Homo sapiens: one gene and its partners. The protein of the gene in region 1 interacts with the protein of each later gene in a pairwise test. Each region holds a gene or a part of one and is shown on either strand. Other genes may lie near its edges. The genes, in order: NRIP1, CEP70 and ARPC3.

Region 1 (3,425 bases):
GTGCTACTTAGTAAAAATTGATTACAATTGAGGGAAGTTTGATAGATCCTTTAAAAAAAAGGCAGATTTCCATTTTTTGTATTTTAACTACTTTACTAAATTAATACTCCTCCTTTTACAGAATTAGAAAAGTTAACATTTATCTTTAGGTGGTTTCCTGAAAAGTTGAATATTTAAGAAATTGTTTTTAACAGAAGCAAAATGGCTTTTCTTTGGACAGTTTTCACCATCTCTTGTAAAAGTTAATTCTCACCATTCCTGTGGTACCTGCGAGTGTTATGACCAGGATTCCTTAAACCTGAACTCAGACCACTTGCATTAGAACCATCTGGAGCACTTGTTTTAAAATGCAGATTCATAGGCAGCATCTCAGATCTACAGAACAAGAATCTCTGCTAAGTGGACCTGGAATCTTCCATCTGCATCTTAACATGCTCTCTAGGTGTTTCTTGTGTTTGAGAACCATGACTTATGACTTTCCTCAGAACATGAGACTGTAAAACAAAAACAAAAAACTATGTGATGCCTCTATTTTCCCCAATACAGTCACACATCAGCTCAAAATTTGCAATATTGTAGTTCATATATTACCGTTATGTCTTTGGAAATCGGGTTCAGAACACTTTTTATGACAAAAATTGGGTGGAGGGGATAACTTTCATATCTGGCTCAACATCTCAGGAAAATCTGTGATTATTTGTGTGTTCTAATGAGTAACATCTACTTAGTTAGCCTTAGGGATGGAAAAACAGGGCCACTTACCAAACTCAGGTGATTCCAGGATGGTTTGGAAACTTCTCCTGAATGCATCCTTAACCTTTATTAAAACCATTGTCCTAAGAACAATGCCAACAAAGCTTACAACATTTAGTTTAAACCCAAGAAGGGCACTAAACTCAGATTGACTAAATAAAAAGTACAAAGGGCACATATACGTGACAGAATTGTACACAATCACTCCATTGGATCTTTTACTTTAAAGTAGTGATGAAAAGTACATGTTGATACTGTCTTAGAAGAAATTAATATATTAGTGAAGCCACATGGGGTTTCAGTTGCGAAACAGGTCTGTTTTTATGTTCAGTTTGTACAATCCACAATTCATTCACCAGATATTTTGTTCTTAATTGTGAACCAGGTTAGCAAATGACCTATCAAAAATTATTCTATAATCACTACTAGTTAGGATATTGATTTAAAATTGTTCTACTTGAAGTGGTTTCTAAGATTTTTATATTAAAAATAGGTGTGATTTCCTAATATGATCTAAAACCCTAAATGGTTATTTTTCCTCAGAATGATTTGTAAATAGCTACTGGAAATATTATACAGTAATAGGAGTGGGTATTATGCAACATCATGGAGAAGTGAAGGCATAGGCTTATTCTGACATAAAATTCCACTGGCCAGTTGAATATATTCTATTCCATGTCCATACTATGACAATCTTATTGTCAACACTATATAAATAAGCTTTTAAACAAGTCATTTTTCTTGATCGTTGTGGAAGGTTTGGAGCCTTAGAGGTATGTCAGAAAAAATATGTTGGTATTCTCCCTTGGGTAGGGGGAAATGACCTTTTTACAAGAGAGTGAAATTTAGGTCAGGGAAAAGACCAAGGGCCAGCATTGCTACTTTTGTGTGTGTGTGTGTGGGTTTTGTTTTGTTTTTTTGGTTGGCTGGTTGTTTTCGTTGTTGTTAACAAAGGAATGAGAATATGTAATACTTAAATAAACATGACCACGAAGAATGCTGTTCTGATTTACTAGAGAATGTTCCCAATTTGAATTTAGGGTGATTTTAAAGAACAGTGAGAAAGGGCATACATCCACAGATTCACTTTGTTTATGCATATGTAGATACAAGGATGCACATATACACATTTTCAAGGACTATTTTAGATATCTAGACAATTTCTTCTAATAAAGTCATTTGTGAAAGGGTACTACAGCTTATTGACATCAGTAAGGTAGCATTCATTACCTGTTTATTCTCTGCTGCATCTTACAGAAGAGTAAACTGGTGAGAGTATATATTTTATATATATATATATATATATATATATAATATGTATATATATATATATTGACTTGTTACATGAAGATGTTAAAATCGGTTTTTAAAGGTGATGTAAATAGTGATTTCCTTAATGAAAAATACATATTTTGTATTGTTCTAATGCAACAGAAAAGCCTTTTAATCTCTTTGGTTCCTGTATATTCCATGTATAAGTGTAAATATAATCAGACAGGTTTAAAAGTTGTGCATGTATGTATACAGTTGCAAGTCTGGACAAATGTATAGAATAAACCTTTTATTTAAGTTGTGATTACCTGCTGCATGAAAAGTGCATGGGGGACCCTGTGCATCTGTGCATTTGGCAAAATGTCTTAACAAATCAGATCAGATGTTCATCCTAACATGACAGTATTCCATTTCTGGACATGACGTCTGTGGTTTAAGCTTTGTGAAAGAATGTGCTTTGATTCGAAGGGTCTTAAAGAATTTTTTTAATCGTCAACCACTTTTAAACATAAAGAATTCACACAACTACTTTCATGAATTTTTTAATCCCATTGCAAACATTATTCCAAGAGTATCCCAGTATTAGCAATACTGGAATATAGGCACATTACCATTCATAGTAAGAATTCTGGTGTTTACACAACCAAATTTGATGCGATCTGCTCAGTAATATAATTTGCCATTTTTATTAGAAATTTAATTTCTTCATGTGATGTCATGAAACTGTACATACTGCAGTGTGAATTTTTTTGTTTTGTTTTTTAATCTTTTAGTGTTTACTTCCTGCAGTGAATTTGAATAAATGAGAAAAAATGCATTGTCTCTGGTTTGAAATGACTGTTATTTTGTGGGCTTTCTCTGGTTTTTAGGTTTTCCATAAACGTAAAACACATTGCTATGAATATAACAGTGATCTTCAAGGATGTTTTGCCCTTCTTAGAAAAATAAAGGGGACAAAAAAGAAGGTGGCTGGCAAGTTAGTGCACTAGAAACAGGGTAATTAAGGCATAACTCAAAGTGACAATCAGCCTATGGCCTTTCTCCCATGATTCAGTGTGTAACTAGTTGATCACTGTAAATTTTTAAACTAGAAAATAGTTTGTGCAGTATTCAAAATTAATGTTGACTATATGTATATACATACACACTTCATTTTAGGATAAGACTTTATCAGAAGGCTTTTATCCAGTTTTTAATGGGTGTGGTTTATTTTAAATAAAAGAAAAAGGAGTTTAATAATTTTCCAAAAATGAATGTGTATGTATATACACGTGTTTACATGTTTAAATATATGCTGTATGTGTATAGGTAATGAGTAATTGATAAGCAACATACATACTCAATAAGTATTAGAGACCAGTGGATTCCAAGAAAAAAAAAAAAACTTTGTACCCAGGTAA
Region 2 (3,659 bases), on another chromosome or scaffold:
GAGAAAAAAAAACAGCAAAAGAAATTAGAGAATGATCAGTGAGGTCAGAGGGAAATAAAGGACATTCTAGAAACCAAGTGAAGAGAATTTCAAGGTAGCAGTGATAAGCCAAAAAAGGTAAAAACCACTGAATCAAACAACATGGAAGTCACCTGGGACCATAATGAGCTGTTTTAGTACTAACTAACCATCATCTAAGAATTCATAACTCAGTACCTGTAAAGTTTTCTGCTCCTTTTGAAGATCTTTTATTTTATTCTGTTGGTGGCAAGCCCTACTTAGTGATTCATCCTCCAATTCACCAATTTTGGATTTCACACTTTCCATAATTTGTTCCAAGTCATTAGCTCGTTGTTCTTGATTGGCTGCTCGGCTTTGCTCTAGCTGAAGTTCATTTCTAAGTTAATAGACATACAATTTCTTCCCTTAGTATTAAAAATAAATCGAATTACCAAGCATATCCATATAAGAATGTATTGCCTTTCTAAAGTTTCTTTGCATTCTCTTTATCCAAAATGCTTGGAACCAGAAGTGATTCATATTTCAGATTTTTTCAGATTTTGGAATATTTGCATCATACTTACTAGTTAAGCATCTCAAATCTGAAAATCCAAAATCCAAAATGCTCCAATAAGCATTTCCTTTAAGCATCATGTTGGTGCTCAAAAAGTTTCAATTTTTGGAGCCTTTCAGATTTTCAGATTTGAGATGCTCATCCTGCAACAGAAACTAATAGAAGAAATATAGGGTACCATTAAACATCTATGCTAAGCTATTACCAAAAGATTTACCTATTAAAATTTTACCTACAAAAATATTTTTTAGTTTAATATTTAATCAAAATGGGAAATTAAATTTCAAGATTTTTTTCAAGGCAGTTATTTTTAGAACGCATACAAACAATTCAAAAGAAATCTTTTCCATTTTCTCACCTAAGCTGTTGATTAGTTTCTATAAGCTCCTGTATCATGTTCTGTTGACATGATGTTTCTTCCACCAACAATTTCAAATTCTGTCTCATCCTTTGTGATGACTGTTTGTCAAAAATGATGAGATCTACATTTAAAAAGTATATAATACAGATAGTAAAAATAAAAGGCAAAAAAAATTTTTTAAGGAAAAATAAACTTTTTACCTTAAGCATCAAGAATAGGATCTAATTACCTTTGAGATCTGTTCTTTTGACTAGAGACAAAGGTTTTAAGCCATGCATCATCAATAGCACATTTATGCTTTCCCATTCTGCTTCTTCCTGCTACAATTACAGAAAGAGAAGAAAGGGTTAACTTTAGATATAAAGTGAAGAAATTCTCTCATATATAATTTCCTGCATTTTCAGAATAGAACTTTTTCTTCAAAAGTTTTAAGTATAAATGTTTATGCATATATAATATCCAAAAAACACATTTATTGTTTCTAGCAAAATTAGTAATAGACTAGAAGTATGTAAATAAGCACAAATTGTTGCATTATACAGAATACTCATATGTAGGCCTCAATGGACAAAACCAACAACAACAACAAAAACACCTTGTAATTTCAGTGAATCAAATAAATCTAAGGTTTTAGATTTAACTAAGCCAAACCAAGCCCTGCTCAGAATAAACAGCTGTAAACTAGGCTATAATAACTGGATAGTAAAGAAAAGAAAAGGTGAGTCACTTCTAAGTATCACTTTCTTTTTTCTTTCTTTTTGAGACAGAGTCTTGCTCTGTCACCTAGGCTGGAGTGCAGCGGTACGATCTCGGCTCACTGCAAGCTCTGCCTCCCAGGTTCACACCATTCTCCTGCCTCAGCCTCCCGAGTAGCTGGGACTACAGGCGCCCGCCACCACGCCCGGCTAATTTTTTGTATTTTTAGTAGAGATGGGGTTTCACCGTGTTAGCCAGGTTGGTCTGGATCTCCTGACCTGGTGATCCACCCGCCCTGGCCTCCCAAAGTGCTGAGATTACAGGCGTGAGCCACCGCCCCAGCCCCTAAGTATCACTTTCATAATGACTAGGGTCACAAAAAAATCAAAACATACCTGACTAGTTGGAGCCAATATTTCAGACAGCTCCTTGTCAAATGGACAAGGTCTAACTATAAAAAGGAGCCCGTCCATCTGGATAACTGACTCTAACAGAATCACCCTGAAAGACACTCTCAAAGTCAAACAAGTCTTTCTTTTTGACTGTTGACTTCTTCCTCCTTTTTTTTACATCTCCTCCCACTCATAACTTTTCTCTCATTTATGCTTTAGTCTTTCTGATCACAGAGTTTAACTACGTGGTAGACACAACTAAAATTAACATTGATGTTGTTTTAGGAGCCAAAAGCTCTGAGTTAGTGTCTCAGAACTTCTACTGTAACTCATAAAAACAAAATGCTCTATACATAATAAAGTCACATATTTTGAATGATTAACTTATACATATTGTTTCCTGATACCTCTTACATTTTAAGATAAAGTAATTGTAAATTCTGAAAATAGTTGGGAATGGCATTTTCCAAAGTACATGCTACAGAACACTAGTCTAATGAAATGTTCATCAAACTAGTGTTAAGTATGTATGAAATGCTGTATACTAAATCCTCCCTTTGGAGACTAATATTGTGAAGTCTTAGAGTAATTAAACCATTTCATAGTCTTTAACCCAGCATTTCCTAAAATTATTTGAGAAAGAATCCTTTTAAAGTCAAATTTTCCTGTTTGTAGATGTAGCATTCTTTGGCACATATTTTGAGAAGCAGTGTCTTAAAATATTTTAAGTTTACCTGTTTTTCAGTCATGAGTCTGTCTGATGGTTGACTGGAATCCTGGGGTTTAGGGGCTACCGGAAACATAGTTACTTTTGTAGAATCAAAAGAAACAGAAATTGGCAATTAAAAAATTTGAGTTGCCTAAATGAAAAAAGACAAAAAGTGCAAAAGGAGTTAAAGAAAAGTATATTTAAAAGAATCCACTACTCTTGCAGGGCAATTCAGGTCATTCCTGCGTCAAAACTTTGTGACTTCTTAGATAGCTGATTGTAAGACTCATTTGAATAAACCCTATCTTATAATGTTCTCCTCTGGAAATAAAGCATTCTGGGATTTTACACATATACCACACACACACATACACTCTGTCCTGTCTAACCCCCCACCACAGAATGCATAACTGGTACCCAAGAACAGAGGAAAGAATGGAGTAGAAGGAGCATTTGAAGAGCTAATGGCTAAGAAAAATTTGAGAATCAATGAAAGACATAAATCCACACATTCTAGAAACCCAACATATTGCAACTGGGATACAGTAAAAAAAAAAAAGAAAAAAGAAAAAAAAAGTCAGTCATACCTAGACACTAATATCTTCAATGTGCTGAAAGAAAATAATTGCTTATCTAAAATTCCAAAGCCAGTGAAAACATTCATTAACGAATAATAAAGGCAAAAGTAATATATTTTCAAACACATGACACAAAATAAATCTGAGAGTGTTCATTGCATCTGCTCTGTAAAAAAATTCTAAAGAAGCTGCTTCATGCAGAAGACTCCCTGATGGAAAAGCAGAGATGTAGAAAAAAATAGAGCAAAAAAATGGGCGAGTTTAAACACAGACTACATAATGAGATCTTGTGAAGTATAAAATGTACAATTAAAATGCACAGTAACAGAAATATATTAGCTGAGAGTAG
Region 3 (3,166 bases), on another chromosome or scaffold:
AGGACAGCCACTATCACATCAAAACTCCCATTCTCCAAATGCACAGTCTCCTCAGTCTCCTTTTCCGTCTGCCCCTGGGAGGAAGGCACAAGCCCCACTCTGAGATGTGCAGCTGCTTTTTTTTTTTGAGACGGAGTCTTGCTCTGTTGCCCAGGCTGGAGTGCAGTGGCACAATCTCAGCTCACTGCAACCTCCACCTCCCAGGTTCAAGCAATTCTCCTGCCTCAGCCTCCCGAGTAGCTGGGATTACAGGTGCCCGCCACCACGCCTGGCTAATTTTTCTATTTTTAGTAGAGACGGGGTTTCACCATGTTGGCCAGGTTGGTCTCGAACTCCTGACCTCAAGTGATCTGTCCACCTCAGCCTCCCAAAGTGCTGGGATTACAGGCATGAGCCACCACGCTCGGCTGAGTGGCTGCTCTCTCTTGTTTTTCTCGGCTCCCCTTGCCCCAGGGTTCCCAAGGATCTGTGTCAACAGCCCCTCACTGTATAGGAAGAAGTAACAAAGCTGCCTGGAAAGCCTGAACTGCTCCATATGGTTGGCTAATTTTTAAAAACCCTTCCCTTCAGGGTCTCTGCCGAGAACAGAAATAGTCATTACTCTAAAGGAGGAAGCAACTATTTCACATTTGACTTGCTCCCAAAGAACTCCATAATCTCAATGTCTTGACCTAACCAAAAAGAAAATGTGGAGAAGACAAATGAATGTTGATCAAATGTGGTATGGACTTTGGGTCAAATTTTACACAAATTTAGGCCAGGTGCAGTGGCTTATGCCTGTAATCCCAGCACTTTGGGAGGTTGAGGTGGGTGGATTGCTTGAGCCCAGGAGTTTGAGACCAGCCTGGGCAACATGGCGAAACACCGTCTCTACTAAAAATACAAAAATTAGCCAGTCATGGTGGCGTGCGCCTGTAATCCCAGCTGCTAGGGAGGCTAAGGCCACAGAATCGCTTGAAGCCAGGAGGCAGAGGTTGTAATGAGTCAAGACTGTACCACTGCACTGCAGCCTGGGCAACAGAGCAAGACTCTGTCTCGAATTAAAAAAAAAAAAAAAAAGGCCGGGTGCGGTGGCCCACACCTGTAATCCCAACACTTTGGAAGTCCAAGGTGGGTGTATCACGAGCTCAGGAGATCGAGACCATCCTGGCCAACGTGGTGAAACCCTGTCCCTACCAAAAAATACAAAAATTAGCTTGGCGTGGTGGCGCGTGCCTGTAATCCCAGCTACTTGGGAGGCTGAGGCAGGAGAACCACTTGAACCCGGGAGTCGAGGGTTGCACTGAGCCGAGATCACGCCATTGCACTCCAGCCTGGTGACAGAGCGGGACTCTGTCTCAAAACAAAAAAACAACAAAAAAATTACCCCCAAACCACACCATTTTCCTATATATTTTTTTTTTTTTGAGTGTTTCACTTTTGCTGCCCAGGCTGGAGTGCAATGGCGTGATATTGGCTCACCGCAACCTCTGCCTCCTGGGTTCAAGTGATTCTCCTGCCTCAGCCTCCCAAGTAGCTGGGATTACAGGCACGCACCACCACGCCCAGTTAATTTTGTATTTTTAGTAGAGACGGGGTTTCCCCATGTTGGTCAGGCTGGTCTCAAGCTCCCGACCTCAGGTGATCCGCCCGCCTTGGCCTCCCAAATTACGGGCAGAGGCACTGCGCCCAGCCACATTTCCCTATTTTTAAGACAATATAGTATCTGGGAACAAATGAAATGTGGCAGAGTTTTTTGTTTTTTTTTTGAGACAGTCTTGCTCTGTCGCCCAGGCTGGGTGCAGTGGTGTGATCTCGGCTCACTGCAACCATCACCTCCTGGGTTCAAGCAATTCTTGTGCTTCAGCCTCCCGAGTAGCTGGGATTACAGGCATGCACTACTACACCTGGCTAATTTTTGTATTTTTGGTAGAGATGGGGTTTCGCTTTGTTGGCCAGGCTGGTCTCAAACTCCTGGCATCATGTGATCCACCCGCCTCAGCCTCCCAAGTGTTGGGATTACAGGCGTGAGCCACCATGCACTAATTTTTCTATTTTTTGTAGAGACGGGGGTTCGCCATGTTGCCCAGGCTGGTCTCGAACTCCTGAACTCAAGCAATGTGCCCAGAGAATTGTAACATTTATAACTGTTACAAACTTAACCCACACATGAGATATAGAAAACATTCTATTACCATCACAGAATGTTTAGACTACAATTTGTACACCAAGAGTCTACAAATAAATAATTCACAACCTGTTTGATTCCAGAAGTTCAGAGTTTGGCAAGGAGGGGCTGAAATTCCATTTTAGGGCCGGGAGCGGTGGCTCACGCCTGTAATCCCAGCACACTGAGAGGCTGAGGTGAGCGGATCATGAGGTCAGGAGATCGAGACACCATCCTGCCTAACATTGTGAAACCCCGTCTCTACTAAAAATACAAAAAATTAGCCAGGTGTGGTGGTGCATGCCTGTAGTTCCAGCTACCTGGGAGGCTGAGGCAGGAGGACTGTCTGAGCCCAGGAGGTTGACGGTATAGTGAGCTGTGATTGTGCCACTGCACTCTAGCCTGGGCGACGGAGCAAGACCCTGTCTCAAAACAAAACAAAAGGCTGGCACATAGTAGGTGCTGCTTAACTAATGTTGAATAAATAAAGATACTTCTAGCAAGGGGTTGGCAAACTTTCTCTGTAAAAGGCAGGCAGTATTTTTAGGTTTTGTGGGCCATACAGTCTTTGTCACAACTACTCAATTCTGCTGTTTTGGTGTGAAAGTAACTATAGATAATATAGAAACAAATGGTTGTGGCTGTGTTCCAATAAAGGTTTATTCATAAAAAGGGGCAGTGGGCCAAATGTGGCCCTCAGGTTAGAGTTTGCCAACCCCTGGTATAGAATTTGGAGGAAAAAAAAAGAAACTAATATTTATACAAAAGCTAACATTAAGCACTGCTCTCGAATTTAAAAATTACATGCTGATTTCATTTTATTTTCTCCTCACAGCAATCTGGATAGCAAGGTTGGTATTATCCCTATGAGAAAACTAAGTTAAATATTAAAAGCTCCGTAATTTACCTTAATTTCATAGTTTTTGAAGAAGACATTGGCCTTGAAGTAATAGATGGCTTCATCCACAATATCTGTATCTTTTGCTAAGCAGGACACAAGGGAAGGAGCACAGAGAACAT

The links.
Region 2: the proteins of NRIP1 (region 1) and CEP70 interact in binary tests that used the Homo sapiens proteins (3 or more experiments, as listed by UniProt).
Region 3: the proteins of NRIP1 (region 1) and ARPC3 interact in binary tests that used the Homo sapiens proteins (3 or more experiments, as listed by UniProt).

The regions. Positions count from the first base shown.
Region 1 is NC_000021.9:14,960,657-14,964,081, reverse strand, and holds the end of NRIP1 (nuclear receptor-interacting protein 1), read left to right. Parts: 3' UTR 1-2,847; downstream 2,848-3,425. UniProt on the Homo sapiens protein: Modulates transcriptional activation by steroid receptors such as NR3C1, NR3C2 and ESR1. Also modulates transcriptional repression by nuclear hormone receptors.
Region 2 is NC_000003.12:138,570,102-138,573,760, forward strand, and holds part of CEP70 (centrosomal protein of 70 kDa), read right to left. Parts: intron 2,884-3,659; exon of another isoform or gene 2,832-2,883; 5' UTR 2,827-2,831; coding exon 2,758-2,826; intron 1,256-2,757; coding exon 1,165-1,255; intron 1,057-1,164; coding exon 933-1,056; intron 426-932; exon of another isoform or gene 398-425; coding exon 217-397; intron 1-216.
Region 3 is NC_000012.12:110,437,259-110,440,424, forward strand, and holds part of ARPC3 (actin-related protein 2/3 complex subunit 3), read right to left. Parts: intron 3,131-3,166; coding exon 3,054-3,130; intron 1-3,053. UniProt on the Homo sapiens protein: Component of the Arp2/3 complex, a multiprotein complex that mediates actin polymerization upon stimulation by nucleation-promoting factor (NPF).